Linked DNA regions of Homo sapiens. The protein of the gene in region 2 binds, or shares a complex with, the protein of the main gene of each other region. Each region holds a gene or a part of one and is shown on either strand. Other genes may lie near its edges.

Evidence for each region.
Region 1: the proteins of ACVR2B (region 2) and GDF2 are in contact, whole or in part, in a crystal structure (PDB 4FAO), measured with the Homo sapiens proteins. Residues at the interface, in NP_001097.2 of Homo sapiens: Asn35, Glu39, Cys49, Glu50, Glu52, Lys55, Leu57, Tyr60, Ser62, Arg64, Val73, Lys74, Cys77, Trp78, Leu79, Asp81, Phe82, Asn83, Glu94, Gln98, Val99, Phe101; in NP_057288.1 of Homo sapiens: Arg333, Ile346, Ala347, Pro348, Lys349, Glu350, Tyr351, Glu352, Lys397, Ser399, Pro400, Ile401, Ser402, Val403, Leu404, Lys406, Gly410, Val411, Pro412, Thr413, Leu414, Tyr416, His417.

The regions. Positions count from the first base shown.
Region 1 is NC_000010.11:47,320,894-47,324,638, reverse strand, and holds the start of GDF2 (growth/differentiation factor 2 preproprotein), read right to left. Parts: upstream 2,186-3,745; 5' UTR 1,971-2,185; coding exon 1,625-1,970; intron 1-1,624. UniProt on the Homo sapiens protein: Potent circulating inhibitor of angiogenesis. Signals through the type I activin receptor ACVRL1 but not other Alks. Signaling through SMAD1 in endothelial cells requires TGF-beta coreceptor endoglin/ENG.
Region 2 is NC_000003.12:38,451,743-38,455,487, reverse strand, and holds the start of ACVR2B (activin receptor type-2B precursor), read right to left. Parts: upstream 1,599-3,745; 5' UTR 1,166-1,598; coding exon 1,114-1,165; intron 1,102-1,113; exon of another isoform or gene 874-1,101; coding exon of another isoform or gene 804-873; exon of another isoform or gene 668-803; intron 1-667. UniProt on the Homo sapiens protein: Transmembrane serine/threonine kinase activin type-2 receptor forming an activin receptor complex with activin type-1 serine/threonine kinase receptors (ACVR1, ACVR1B or ACVR1c).

The sequences.
Region 1 (3,745 bases), on a different chromosome or scaffold from region 2:
TTGGGATTGAGAGTTCCTACTGTTTATCGAGCATCTACTATGTGCCAGGCATTACACTGGGAGCTTTGCAGAATACATTTCACCTTAATCCTCTCACTTACCCTGGGAGGATCTAATTATTATTCCACATTTGCAGATGTGGAGACTGGGATTCAAGGCAGTTAATTGCCAAAATGCATACAGCTAGTTAAGTATTCTGGGACTTACTAGCACACAGCTATTGAGTACATAAAGAAAACAGAAAAACTCACTGTCAGATCCTGAGTGAAGATCCTGAGTGTATGAATTTAAAGGAGAGATCCTGGGTGGGGACAGTGAAACCCCAATATTAAGACAATATCAAAAATCTCAGCCTCTAAACAGTGTATAAATCGTTTGAAATTGTAATTTCCAAACAAAGCAAAAGTGGATAATTGGTTTTAGTGTTTCAGGAACAAAATCTATTAGCTTCAATTGCTTTGTCATGTCAAGCAAAAATGGGGCTTGGCTTTTAGCCACATAGTTATCTCGATATCCCATTTATCCTGGGCTGACACTTTGTCATTAGCACGCTCCTGCTATACAATGGCTGGTTCACAGACAGGGAAAAGAGGTTGCATTTTTTCAGCACTTGCTATATACCCACATGTGTGGAGACCCTGTGCTATAGGGAAACCTAGCTGGCAGGTTTTGAAGTGCCAGTCCTGCCTCTGCAGACCAGTTAGGTCTGGCCTGGGCGTGGTATGGAGCCAGGCCCCTTAGCCATTTGCAAGTCTCAGACCCAGGAAGGGAGAGGCTCTGTGCTCCTGGACATTCAGAGGGAGACAGCAGCAGCAGGAAAAGCCAGCTCTGCAGGCAGACAGGTTTAACACTTCCTAGGTGTGCAGGCTTAACACTTCCTAGGTGACATGGGTGGGTACCCTTGGTGGCTGCAAGCTTTGACTGAACAGTTTTGCTCTTCAGAAACTTATTTCCCCTGCATCATGTGAGCTTGTCTGAGTTAGGACATAGGTCCTAGGTCCGTGTTTGTTATCTTCTAGTCCTTCTAAATCAGATATATTTCTATTTAAAAACAATTAGGTTCTCTGCCAACACTTCTCTGTCCAAGAATTTTATCTGATTTTTAAAACCGTTTCATAAGAAAGGAATAGATGTGCTTTGAAAATTTAAAAATATCCCAGTTAGTTGGAGGTGAAATAGGTTGCCTGTTCTGTTCTGAAGTAGGAAGGGGACAGGAAGGGAAGGGGGAAAGGAAGAGAAGTGAATCAGAGGGGAGTGATGCAAAGAAGAGGAGAGTAAAGAGAAGGGGTGGAAAAAAGAGAGCTGGCATCCCTGTGCACCTGCTGTGTGAAATGTGGCACACAGCTTGGGGAAGGTGAATCCTTCACAACAGAAGTGCTGAGTAGAACTCTCAGTAACCATGGAAATGTTCTTCAGTCTGCACTGCCTGATAGGGAAGCCATTAGCCACGCATTTGAAAGGAAGCTGGTGAGGCTAAAGAAATAAGTTTTAATTTTATTTCATTGTAACTAATTTAAATGGAAGCTTGAAGAGCCTCCTATGGCCAGTGGCCTCCACCCTGGGGAAAGCAGCTGTGGACCTGTGAGTCCCACCCCAGCGCGCATGGTGCAAGCGGAGACCCTACCTTCCATGCTGAAGCTCCGCACAATGTTGGACGCTGGCGTAGTCGACTTATCGGACGTGTACCTGTTGTACAGGTCAATCATGTACTGCGGCGGCTCCACCCTGGTTTTGTCCTGCGAAGGGACCCCACTCAGGTTAAGGCTGCGCAGGAAATCCACCTTCACGTTCTCCAGAAACATCTTCAGGTTGAAGGTGTGCTCAGGCAGCCCACCTCCAGGCACCCCCAGTGGGCTGTGGGCGTTTCCCCCAGCAGACCCTCGTCCCCAGCTCTGCAGTGGCTTCCCCTGTAGGGAGCCAGCCAGCAGGGACAGCAGGGGCAGGGCCACCCACAGTGCCCCAGGACACATCTTAGGCCCGCGCAATCACCCAGAGAGGAGACTGCAGGCGGCCGTGCTGTGTTAGCGGGCACGGGGAGGAGCTGGGAAGGAGCGGGCCGGCATCTCCCTGCTGTTTGCTCTGAAGGAACCGTCCTGGCCAGCACCCACTCTCACCCGCTGCCGGGCTGGATTGTCCTCCACTTGTGCTTATCTGGTCCTCGATGCCGCGCTCCGACGTCTTATCTGAGGGAGCCTTCCGTTAATGAAGGCTCTATAAACATCTGACAAACACACAGGGCATGCGGGAAGGACACGGCCTACTGTAAAGAATCTGTGCTTCTCCAGGGGGTTATTGCCCCCTAATTAGGATACTTTCTCATTTCCTTGCCAGGGCTCTTCAGAAGAATCTCCAGGCAGGGTGACATATGCTCCATCTCCTGGGCCACAGGAGTGAAGAATCCAGGAAACAAGACCAAGTAGTCCTCCAAATATAGAAAGGACAGCACAAGATCACAGTGAACCGTGGGGGCTGGGGAGATGGGGAGAGTGTGGGGACCACATCAGGGCTCAGAAGAGGCCTGCTCCTTGCAGAATCGGAACCTGCCAGCAAGCCTCCCTGCTCTGTTGGTGGGATGCACTGCTGAGCATTAGAGATCACGAGTGAATATGGCTCCCGTGCAATTTAGTGCGGTGATGAGTCAAACTAGACACAGGCTGGGATCTCAACTCCCTCACCGATTCCCTGCAAATGTCACCTGGAACAAGTCACTGCAGCTCTTGGAGCCTCCCATTCAGAAGATAGTTATAGGGGTTAAGAGGATGCTGTGCCCCAGGCTGGCTTGGTGGCTGCATTCTGGATGCCCCCTCTCCAGCCCAGGCCTGATTGAGCTGGAGCTGGGGGAGGAAGCCCTGGGTTCCCCCAGCCTGCTCTGTCGGAGCTCCACAACACACTGCAGCCTGTGGGGAGCTCCCCACATCCCTGCATCCCAGCTGTGTCACTGGTCTGTTGTGGGGTGGTCTTAGCTCACACCAACCTGGCAGCCACCTGGCCCACACTCATCAGCAGGGAGAACCACGCAATCTGGTAGACAGGGGAGTAGGTGGGTTGTTCTGAGAGTGGTACATGCCAAGAAGATGATCCCCTGGCCTTTGGAGGCTGATAAGCTGTGGCCCAGGAAAGGGCCCCAGGGACTGCGTTAAGAGCAGTATGTCCACACTTAGACTCTGTCCATTTCCATCACGTGTGGCTTTGAGCAAAGCAAAGAAGGATCATGGTTAGAAACACTCTGGGGTATGCTGTGCCTGGTGGTTTACTCTGGGGAAGGTATTCTATGCTGGTGAGGCTGTCCGGGAGAGGCTGCAGAGAGCTGAGCAGGTTTAGGGGGGTGCAGGAGGGGCCACAGCATGCTGCGGTCAGAGATTGCAGAGGGGGATGGGTGAAATCAGGAGCCCCTGAATGGCTGGGCCTGAATAGAACTTGCTATCTCTGTCCTTTGATGACATGGGCCAGGGGAAGACGGGAAGCGTGCTGCTTCAGAAATGCTGCTTGGGAAGAGGACTGGAAGTGTGCTGGGCTTTGATCCAGCTCAGTGCAAGAATTCCATGGGGCAGAGAAAAGATGAATAAATGGGTGCCATGCCCAAGAAATGGAGCTGCAAATGCGGAGTGAGGTGTGGTCCGGGAGGAGTGAGGACAGGGCAGATGCCTGCAACATGGTCTGGCCAGGAGCTTTTCACACACGAGAGGCTGAGCAGAGGGATAGCCTAGTGGCCTGGATGTGCTCAGGGAGGAGCAAGGGGCTGCTA
Region 2 (3,745 bases):
CCTGCACGCCCGGCCCCGCCCCTCGAGGGTTTCCCAGACTCCAGGCGGCTGCCACCGAGGGCGGCGGGGGACCCGCGCTGCATGTGTAATGGGGGCTGGGAACAAAGACGCGCAGGACCCGGCGGCCGGGTACCAGCCGCCCCGACCTTCTCGCCAGAGCTTCAATGCCCAGCTCCCCACGTTTCCCAGGACTGGCCAGGGGACGTCCCGGCGCGCCCGCCGGGGTTAGGCGCACCCCGGCACCACTGAGAGAGGGAAATCGGTGCTTGGACCGTAGGAGAAACAAGCTTTCCAGGCGGAACTCCGCTTGTTTACGCCCGCGCCCACATACCCCCAAACACACATGCGCTGGCCGAACACCTCCAGCCACACGCCCGCAGCCGCGGGCGAGCTGAGCGCTGGTCACCCACCCCGCCACGTGCCTCCTGGAGGCCCGAAGGAAGAGGGACCTGTTGGGTTTTCCATCTTACCCACCCCCTCCCCTCCCAAGTGCCCAAACAAAGCGGTCCCGCGAAGCGACCACACTCCGCATCCCGGGGCCAACGGCAGGGAAAGAGGGAGCAGGTGGGAGCCAGCACCAACAGCCCGCCGGGCCGGTAACGCGACGCAGACTGGTGGCAAGAGATGCAGGGGACTTTGGGCTGCGTGAAGCCGCCCCCTTCGCTTCGCTACACTTAGTGACTCTGAGGGACATGCAACCCTCCCCGCATGCTGCTGCTGCTGCTGCACCTACAATCCTGCCACCCCCAATGAGATCTGCCCACCCCTCTTGGCCGCCTTCCCCACGCTCAGGTTTTCCTCACTCTTTCCCTGGGTTCCACGCGCCCGCGTAGCCCGAACTCCGACCCTGAGGCTCCGCGTCCCGGCCCCCATCGCAGGGGCGCCTCTAGGAACCAGAATCCCGCAGATGACTGCACAGACAAGATCGTGCCCCCAAGTTCGGCGAGCCGGGCGCCCACCGCGCCCCCAGCCCACGCCCCCGGAGGTGAGGGCTGAATACAGGTGGTGCGGCGACGAGGCCCCGGGCCCGCCCTTTGTTGGTAAACACCGCGCGGCGCCAGAGGCCAGCCCCGCGCGCCCTCTCGGCGTCCCCGCGCCGCGCCCAGTTCTTACCGGCGCACAGCGATCCCCAGAGGAGGGCGAGGGCCACCCAGGGCGCCGTCATGTTCCGCGGCGCCGCCCCGCGCACACCCGGAGCCCGCGGGCAGGGCCGCACGGCGCTCCCGGGGCGCGCAGGGCCAGGCGGCGGCTGCGCTCTCCTTCCCGCTCCTTCCTTCGGTCTCGTTCCCTGCGCGCTTCCTGCGCCTTCGTCCCCGAGCAGCGTTCGGGCTCCAAGGGCCGGTCGGCGGGGCCGGGCTCAGGGCCGCTGCGGGCGGCGCAGGCTGCGGCCCGGGCTCCGGGGCGACGCGGGGGCCGGGGGGCGGCGGCGGGGCACGGGCCGGGGCGCGCCCGACTCAGGCATAGCGCGGCGGGGCTGGGCCCGGGCCCCGGGCGCAGGGGCCGAGTCCGGAGGGGCCATGAACGGGGGGAGGGGTGGGGGGGAGGGGAGCTGAACCGAGTCCAAAATGGCTCCTGAGCGGCGGCCACGGAGCCGAGCCAGCGGGGAAACCCGGATGTTGGATACAAAGAGGCGGGCGGGCTGGGCGGGGAGGGGGAGGGGAGGCGGGCCCTCCGGCCGCGTGGTCCGCGCCCCCCTGAGGGGCGGGGCCCCAGAGAAACAACAACACGGAGGCCCCGCCCCCATCCCGCGCCCTGTGGGAGGACGCGCGTGCACCAACTTGCTGGAGGACAGGGCGGGGCGCGCGGACGGAGGTGGCGGGAATGGGCTCCTGACCACTTTGCCCGGGAGCCTGTGGCCACTGCACTCGCAATTAGTGCCCCGCACGCTCGAGCCCAAGCTCCTGACACATGCTGCCCTACAACCCCGGAATGAGTGGATAGTCCCGGGACTCTGGCCCAGACGCCTCTGTGCCTTGGATTCCCCACCTGTGCAATGGGGGTGACAGTGAACCGTGGGAAAGTCGGATCTCTACTGATGGGCGAATTAAGTGGCAGAAAGAGGCTGACTTCCCTGAATTGACAAGCAGTCTCCCGTCTGCAATCCCTTGCCACACACTCAAAGGCACAGCTAGGGCGGGGAGTGGTCATTTAAACCCAACCAAGTGAGGGAGCGGGCAGAGTCCCGCCCCTCTAAGCCCAGCAGGTGGAAAAGGGCCTCTGGCAACCTGCTGGCCCTCCCTAATCCTATCTTGTCTTCTGCAGTTCCTGCGCCACCCACAGCGGCCCTGAGCTTCAATCTGCACTTTCAAAACTTCCCAGTTGCCTCCAGAGCCCTGCAGTTGAAGATCTTGTCTAGCACATGGTTTTGCTGTTTTCCTCACCCCGAACTCCCTCCTTGGAGGGCCATCGTTCTCTGTCTCAGATTCCACCCTCCTTATCACACAACTAGAGCTTCGGAGGAACGTGATGGGGCTCCCAACTAAGGAGGGAAAGACCATCATAGCTCAGGGATGAGGCTCCGAGATCCTCAGATAACATTAATTGTCCTCTGTCTTCTCTTGACTTGGCACATCCTTGCTTGGAGCAGGGCAGGAGCAGCTGAAAGGGAGGTGGCACCTGGAGGTCTCAGTCATTTCACTTCTCTGAGCCTCAGTTTTCCCATATGCAAAGTGAAGAGGTACACTCCCTCAGGGTTTTGCATCTTCTTAATGGCAGAAACCTAGTCAAACAAAATATTATGTAAATGTTCACTATAGGCAGGGCGAGGTGGCTCAAACCTGTAATTCCAGCACTTTTAGAGGCCCAGGAGGCTCTTGAGGTCAGGAGTTCGAGACCAGCCTGACCAACATGGCAAAAACCTGTCTCTACTAAATAATACAAAAATTAGCTGGGCATGGTGACACACACCTGTAATTCCAACTACTCGGTAGGAGGCTGAGGCAGGAGAATCGCTTGAACACAGGAGGGAGGCGGAGGTTGCAGTGAGCTGAGATTGCACCACTGCACTCCATCCTAGGTGACAGAGTGAGACTCTCTCTCAAAAAAAAAACAAGTTTATAAAGGAATGTATATTGTTCTGATTGACATTGAAATAGGGTCAACTACCCCCGGTCACCAGAGCAGCAGGAACACCTCAGGGGCCACACTTTGGAGGCACTGCCCAGAAAGATTTCTGGGTCTTTAAAAGTCCCTTCCAGTCCTGGGAAATTCTATGTGAAAATGATGGTCCCTGCTTGCTATAATCCCTACAGGTGACTTATTATCTAAGCCATTTAACACAGGATTGAATACTATGCGACTGTGTGCCAAGCAAGAAGCAGTGTTGTATGGGACACCCTAGCTGTGTATAAGGTATCTGGTAATAACACAGGAGGCCACAGTGATAGACTGTGATAACGGAAGTAATTCCATATCCAGTTTAAGTGTCTTTTCTAGGGAGTATAAATCGTTATCTCCATTCCAATATGGACTGAAAGGTATCGACTTTTATCCATGTGCCAAAAATTAGATTGGCTGGTTCCTCTCTTCTACTCCATACCAGGTCAGGTATCATAATAAGGACTCAGAGTGGTCCAAGCTGCCCAAATATCTGTGTCTTCCACTCTGACCTGTCTGGGAACCCCAAATTTATATCCAACTGCTTACTTGACAACTGCAGTTGGTAGCCTATCAGGCATCTCAAATTTGACCTAGCCAAAGCAGAAGTCCTCATTTTCCCCGTAAATCTCCTCCCCAGTTTTCCCTG